Linked DNA regions of Homo sapiens. The protein of the gene in region 1 purifies or fractionates together with the protein of each later gene. This does not show direct contact. Each region holds a gene or a part of one and is shown in the gene's direction. Other genes may lie near its edges.

Evidence for each region.
Region 2: the proteins of ACSL5 (region 1) and TMEM238L purify together in Homo sapiens (co-immunoprecipitation; one study listed by IntAct). This does not show direct contact.

Annotation. Positions count from the first base shown.
Region 1 is NC_000010.11:112,418,979-112,422,798, forward strand, and holds part of ACSL5 (long-chain-fatty-acid--CoA ligase 5), read left to right. Parts: intron 1-2,614; coding exon 2,615-2,687; intron 2,688-2,968; coding exon 2,969-3,057; intron 3,058-3,346; coding exon 3,347-3,463; intron 3,464-3,820. UniProt on the Homo sapiens protein: Catalyzes the conversion of long-chain fatty acids to their active form acyl-CoAs for both synthesis of cellular lipids, and degradation via beta-oxidation.
Region 2 is NC_000017.11:10,798,087-10,801,906, reverse strand, and holds part of TMEM238L (transmembrane protein 238-like), read left to right. Parts: intron 1-3,820.

The DNA of each region.
Region 1 (3,820 bases):
TAATCTCCTATTAATGGACACTTGAGTTGCTTATGATATTTTTCATTGTTATAATCAATTAATAATCTAGAATAAATCCACGCAAGAAGGGATTATTGGGTCAAAGTAATACACACAATGTATCTGTGTGTGTGTGTGTGTGTGTGTGTGTGTAATAATGTATATTATCAAACTTTCTTCCAGAAAGATCTTTTTTGCACATTTCTGCAAGTATACAAGGCCTTATTTGCCCATGCTCTTGCCAGTGACAGACTTTATCAGTCATTCAGATATTAGCTAATCAGATAAATGAAAAATCTTATTACAGTTTTGTTTCTTTTATTTACACCAAACATCTTTCTATTGCTTATTGACATGTATATTTTATCCATGAATTATTCTATTACTTCCTTATAGAAAAACAGGCAAAAGATAATTTGGTCCTTTTTTATATTTCTAAGAGTTCTTCACAGAGTAATACAGGTTGAGTATCTCCCTATTTGAAATGCTTGGGACTAAAAGTGTTTTGAATTTTGCATTTTTTTCCAATTTTGTAATGTTTGCATTATAAAACAGTTGAGCATTCTGAATCTGAAAATCCAAAATCTGAAATGCTCCAAAAAGCATTTCCTTGGAACATCATGTTGGCACTCAAAAAGTTTTGGATTTTGGAACATTTTGGATTTCAAACATTTGGATTAGAATAGTCAACCTGTAATATTAACTTTTGTCATGTTGGAAACATTTTTCCTGGTCTCATCATTTTTGCCCTGTGTATTGCCATATAAAAATTTCCAATGTTTTTATAGTCAAACTAAATAATCTTTTCTATTTGTAGGTTTTAAACTGCTTAGACAGGACTTCCTAACCCCCAATATTTCATAAGACTGTTTCACCCTTATTTTCTGGCAAACTTACCATTTTCCATTTTTTCCTTTTAAGTCTCAGTTCCACCTGAAATTTGTCCAAGTGCTTGGCCATGCATATTGTCTCAATTTTCACCCAGATGGATAATTAGTTCATTCATTCAACCAACCATGCAGAGCATGAACAAAACAGGCATAGACTTTTCCTCATGAGTCCCCTATCTGTATAACCACAATCAAAAGAGACTCCAGAATGATGCCAAGGCCTGAGGTCCTTCAAATTAGCATCCTCTTAGCCATTTTTAATACTGTCCTTTCCTTAAGCCCCTAAAACCAATAGATCAGCAGGTCCTGTTGCTAACTCCTTCCCGAAATGTCTTCTCTAAGCCTTCCTCTCTCTCCCAACTCTGCCTATCACAGGCCACACCCCCCATTGCAGCAGCCCTTGAACTTGTTTCCTGCCCCCAGCCTCTCTCCAGTCAAGATTATCTTCTATACCAAGGATTGGCAAATTGTAGCACTGGCTAAAACTAGTCTGCAGCTGGTTTTTATTTTAAAAATATTATTCAAATACAGCTATGTCCATCCATTTATATATGGACTGTGGCTGCTTTTGTGCTATTTTGGCAGAGTCAAGTTTTGAGTCAGATACCAGATGGCTCACAAAGTGGAAAATATTTACTATCTTGGCCTGTACAGATAAAGTTTGCCCACCCTTGTTTTATATCATAGTGGGGGCTATTTCCCTTAAAAAATACTACTCCCCTTCTTCAGTTCCTTCAGTGATGCTCCATTGCTCAGGGTCAAGTTCAATTGCTATTGGGTTGCACACCACTTAGTGAATAACTTACATGTTCCCACCTACTTGAAATGCTGCATTTTCTTTTCTTTTTTTTCTTTTTTTTTTCTTTTGAGATGTAGTCTCGCTCACTGTGTCACCCAGGCTGGAGTGCAATGGCACAATCTCGGCTTACTGCAACCTCCGCCTCCTGGGTTCAAGCAATTCTCCTGCCTTAGCCTCCTGAGTGGCTGGAATTACAGGCATGTGCCACCAGGCCCGGCTAATTTTTGTATTTTTAGTAGAGATGGGGTTTCACCATGTTGGTCAGGCTGGTCTCGAACTCATGACCTCAGGTGATCCTCCCGCCTTGGCTTCCCAAAGTGCTGGGATTACAAGCATGAGCCACCATGCCTGGCCAAAATGCTGCATTTTCATATAAAGTTCTATGCTTTGGTCTATTTCCAGACCCTTTTGGTTTCTGAATGGCCAGAAGGCTTGGTAGTAAATACTTTGCAGCTTGGGTATGAGTTCAAGGTTTTTTGTTTGTTCGTTTGTTTGTTTGTTTGTTTTTTGAGACGGAGTCTCGCTCTGTCACCCAGGCTGGAGTACAATGGCGTGATTTCAGCTCACTGCAACCTCTGCCTCCCAGGTTCAAGAGATTCTCCCACCTCAGCCTCTCAAGTAGCTGGGATTACAGACACCTGCCATCATGCCCAGCTAATTTTTTTTGTGTTTTTGTAGAGATGGGGTTTCACCATGTTGGCCAGGCTGGTCTCAAACTCCTGATCTCAGGTGATCCTCCCGCCTCGGCCTCCCAAAGTGCTGGGATTACAGGCATGAGCCACCGCCCCCTCCAAGTTCAAGGTTTTAAGACACTAAGTGGTCTCGAACCCTTAGAGACCTTGCTTTCCTCGTGTCTTGACCATAGCACGTGGCCAGCTCACACTTTATCTTGAGTAAGTCTAAAAGCTCTTCTTTGGTTTCCCAGGTGTATGAAGCTTATGGTCAAACAGAATGCACAGGTGGCTGTACATTTACATTACCTGGGGACTGGACATCAGGTAAGTCCTCCATCTGCTGGGCAGGAGGTGCCATGGTTGGGAGAAAGGTTCTAACTGAACTAGGACTTTGGAGTTTAGATAACTTCAGTTCTCTGGACTAATGTGGCAAATGCAAAATTCAAGTTTTGGGTCCAGGCCTGCCTATCTTGGCTAGTCTGCATTGGTGCCAGGTGATTTTTCAGTCTTCCTCTTCTAGAGTCAATTCATAAATATCTTAGAAATGTGCCTGGAATTATCACCATGCAAGAGTTTCTCAGCTAATTCAGCACGGTATGTTCTAGGTCACGTTGGGGTGCCCCTGGCTTGCAATTACGTGAAGCTGGAAGATGTGGCTGACATGAACTACTTTACAGTGAATAATGAAGGAGAGGTGGGTAGGTCATGCCCTGTGGTCAGACAGTCATGGTGGGGAGGTTTATATCAGAAAGAGCAAATAATTGTAAGCAAACTTGGATTTGGCCCCTTTGAGATTGTTAGCAAAGAATTAAGCATTCTGAACTTCACTTTCCTATCCCCTATAGTGGAGACTTAGATCTGGTGCTCTTCACAGTGTAGTGGAAGCCATCAAATGATTTAAGGGGAGCAGGTGTTTCATAAACTGCCCACGCTGGGAGGAGCAGCCTTTGCTATTGTCACCGCCTTGTATGTCTGCTGTGCAGGTCTGCATCAAGGGTACAAACGTGTTCAAAGGATACCTGAAGGACCCTGAGAAGACACAGGAAGCCCTGGACAGTGATGGCTGGCTTCACACAGGAGACATTGGTCGCTGGCTCCCGGTAGGTATATCATCAGAACTCCTGGAAGTCTATGCTAATGGACTGAGAAGAACAATCTGCTTATAGCAAGAGGTGCAGAAATGCAAGTAGGTTAATCAGCTGAGGCAGCTGGAGGGGATTAGGTTTGTACCCTACCTGGCTTATGACTTCCTCATACTATCCAGAGAAGAACATACAGACTGAGGTGGTGGATCACCTGAGGTCAGGAGTTCAAGACCAGCCTGGCCAACATGGTGAAACTCCGTCTCTACTAAAAATACAAAAATTAGCTGGGCATGGTAACGGGCACCTGTAATCCCACCTACTTGGGAGGCTGAGGCAGGAGAATCGCTTGAACCCAGGAGATAGAGGTTGCAG
Region 2 (3,820 bases), on another chromosome or scaffold:
AGGAGGTTGAGGCAGAAGGATTGCTGGAGCCCAGGAGGCACAGGCTGCAGTGAGCAGAGATTGCACCACTGCATTCCAACCTGGGCGGCAGAGTGAGACCTGTCTCAATTAAAAAAAAAAAAAGACACATGACGTGGGGGCTCTACTCTCAGGGAGTTTACCATCAGGTGAGAAAGACAGACACTCACCAAAGATTCACACTTACAAAAGTACAATAACAAAGTCAGGTCTGCTCTAGGAAGGAGAGGAGCATCCTGCCACAAGAATATTCAATAGAGAAACTGACTCAGAAGATGGAGTCAGGGAAAGCTTCCTGGAGGAGGTGATATTATGCTGAATGCCAAAGGAAGAGTGGGAGGTGAATGGAAAGTCTTTCAGGGAGAGGCAATGGCTTGGGCAAAGGTCCTGGGATAACAGGAAATAAAAGACGACAGGGAGATTGAAGGGCAGAGAGCAAATGTCGGTGAGGGTTAGGGCTCTGTGGTAGACAGAGGCCAGATCTGGCAGGGCCTCGAGGGCCCTCTGAAGGATTTTGGTCATTACTTGAAGAACAATAAGAATCCACTGAGGGCTGGGTGCTGTGGCTCACACCTGTAATCCCAGCACTTTGGGAGGCCGAGGTGGGCAGATCACGAGGTCAGGAGATCGAGACCACAGTGAAACCCTGTCTCTACTAAAAATACAAAAAATTAGCCGGGCGCAGTGGCAGGCGCCTGTAATCCCAGCTACTTGGGAGGCTGAGGCAGGAGAATGGCGTGAACCCGGGAGGCGGAGCTTGCAGTGAGCCGAGATCGCACCACTGCACTCCAGCCTGGGTGACAGAGCGAGACTCCGTCTCAAAAAAAAAAAAAAACAGTAAAAAGGAATCCATTGAAGAGATATAAGCAGAGGCAGGGGCTTAACATAATTGGACCTGTGTTTCCAAGAGACCACCCCGGCCACAGTATAGGTTATTATGGTTATGATTATTACCGGCTGAAACCCATTTGGGGAGCCAAGACAAGTACCCAAACAACACAGAGTCCCCAGTGTGAGGCTCCGTGCCCTGAACAGCCTTCCCTCATTGAACAGAAGTTCAATAGCCCGGCGTTGAAGAGCATGGGCCATACCTAGACTCTGGCTTGAATCCAGTTTTATTCCTTTCTAGCAACGTGACTTGGGGCAAGTTACTTCACCTCTCCGTGCCCCATTACTCCAAATATGTAAAATGGAGATGGTGCTAATAATAGCCACTACGTCATAAAGATGTTGCCCAGATTAGGTGGATTAATATTTGTTCAGCACTATGCAAGTGATGACTAAATAAAGCGTCAGTCACGATGCAGGTAGCCAGCACATTACAGAGGGTGAGGCCCTGACGCATTACGATCAGTTCTAATGGCAATGTACAACATTAGGATTTTTCAGTAGATATGAGACTGAATGCTGCTCCAGAATGCTAGAGTTTTGTCCTGGTTCAAAGAAACTTTAGAAGTTTTAATATGTTCTTTATTGTATTCTTTACTGCATCTCCATCCCCTGACACATTTCAGGGATGGCCCAGAGTGACAGATTCGTGTGTGCTGAGTCCTGCTGTTCAGGACGTTGCTCACTTATGGGGCTGCCCAACCCTCCTCCACCCCATGGCCTTGGGCGAATCATTTTACTTCCCTTTAGAGTTAAAGATGTGGTTTCCGGCCAGGCCTGGTGGCTCACGCCTGTAATCCCAGCACTTTGGGAGGCTGAGGCGGGCGGATCACGAGGTCAGGAGATCGAAACCATCCTGGCTAACACGGTGAAACCCTGTCTCTACTAAAAATACACAAAAATTAGCCGGGCATGGTGGCGGGTGCCTGTAGTCCCAGCTACTTGGGAGGCTGAGGCAGGAGAATGGCGTGGACCCGGGAGGCGGAGCTTGCAGTGAGCCGAGATCACGCCACTGCACTCCAGCCTGGGCGACAGAGCCAGACTCCGTCTCAAAAAAAAAAAAAAAGATGTGGTTTCCAAGGGAGGTTTCAAACTGTGTTCTGCCAATGTCCCTGGAAGGGAATTGGGCCTGGGGTGAGGGGCAGAGTGAGGGGACAGGAGTCCAGCAGCCCTACCCACCCCGTAACACACATTTCACCCAGAACAGTGGAGCTCTCAGCAGCTTTGCACATTAAACTGGCACGTAAGACTTTACATGAACACAAGTTTCTGATGCCAAAAAATATTTGAAAAGCAGCTCGTCTCACTTCCCCTACAGCCTACGACCTTTGGCCTATATGTCAATTCCAGACACATTCACGATTTACGGGCAGATTGTAACTGGCTTTGCCAGCTCTCTCATTCTCAGAGCGGGGTAAAAGGAAAGAATGTGGGCTCCCTGCATTCAGAGCTGATGCCCACATTCCTAGCTCAGCCTTCAGAGGCTCTGTAAGATGAGGTTGAGGCCGGGCATGATAGCTCATGCCTGTCATCCCAGCACTTTTGAAGGCCAAGGCCAGAGGATCACTTGAGGCCAGAAGTTGGAGACCAGCCTGGCCAACATAGTGAAACCCCGTCTCTACTAAAAATACAAAAAATAGCCAGGCATTGTGGCATGTGCCTGTAACCCCAGCTACTTGGGAGGCTGAGGCAGAAGAATAGCTTGAACCTGAGAGGCGGAGATTGCAGTGGGCCAAGATCGTGCCACTGCACTCCAGCCTGGGCGGCAGAGCAAGACTCCATCCCCCAAAAAATAAAAAATTAAAAAATGAGTTTGATAGGACCTGCCCCCACCCTGCCCCAGAGATGAGGAGGTCCCATGCTCGGTCAGGACAAGGCAGGGGCCTGGCTGCCCCACAAGCCTTCTGCCCACAGCCTGCGTGGTTCTCCAGAGAGAGGGCAGGGTGGCTGCTAAACCTCAAAGGCACCCCCAGGAAGTTTCAGGGCGAGTGGCTGATTTTTATAGATCAACTGTGCTCCAAGAGAGACAAGCTGCCGTTTGATTTTATCACCTGGTCACTGTATTTTCAGATTTTTTTTTTTGCTCCATTTTCCACTTCTTGGTTATTTCCTGCAGATAAAGATAAGTCCCCAAGCAAAGTCAGATGAAGACTCTTGTCCTTTTTTAATAGGGTGTCCAAGACTACACACCCAAACAATACACACACACCAACACCCCACACACGTACACACACATCCCTCTTCTACTCCACGTGTTCATGCACACACAAACACGCCCCCCACACACTCACACCTACCACACACATCCAGAAACACACACTCACAGAAACAAACACACCCACCACACACTCACACCTACCAAACACACACCCAGAAACACACACTCACAGAAACAAACACACCCACTCTCACACCAACCAAAGCCAAAAGGCTAACAGCCTTGAGCCTTGGAAAATGAAACTTGTTCCTCCACTTCGACTTTTTCCAACAGGCAGCCTCTCCCCTCTGCCCACAGAGGAGGCCAGTGGAGCTGCCAAGTCAGCTCAAAGGTGAGCCTGGTAAAAAGCCCTCCTCTCCTGCTCAATGAATCTGTGCCCCATGCAGACATGGTGCCAGGGCTGTGTGGAGGAGCAAACATTTCTCTAATCTCTCCAGGGATTTTTAATCTAAGGGGAGAGATAAAGCATGTGCACGATACTTCACAAAGTTTCCAAGGGAAAATGCATTGCAGGAGATAAGCACAGTCTTGCCAGGGCTCTGAAAGCTGAGAGGAGGCACAGAACCTCCTGGCTGGGGGAAGCGTGCTGTGTGTGGTTCTGGCTGGGCTGCTAAGGAACAGGTAAGAATGTGACAAGTAGAGATGGCACAGGGACAGCAGCCGTGGGTGGTGGGTAGGGGGCAGTCCAGGCAAAAG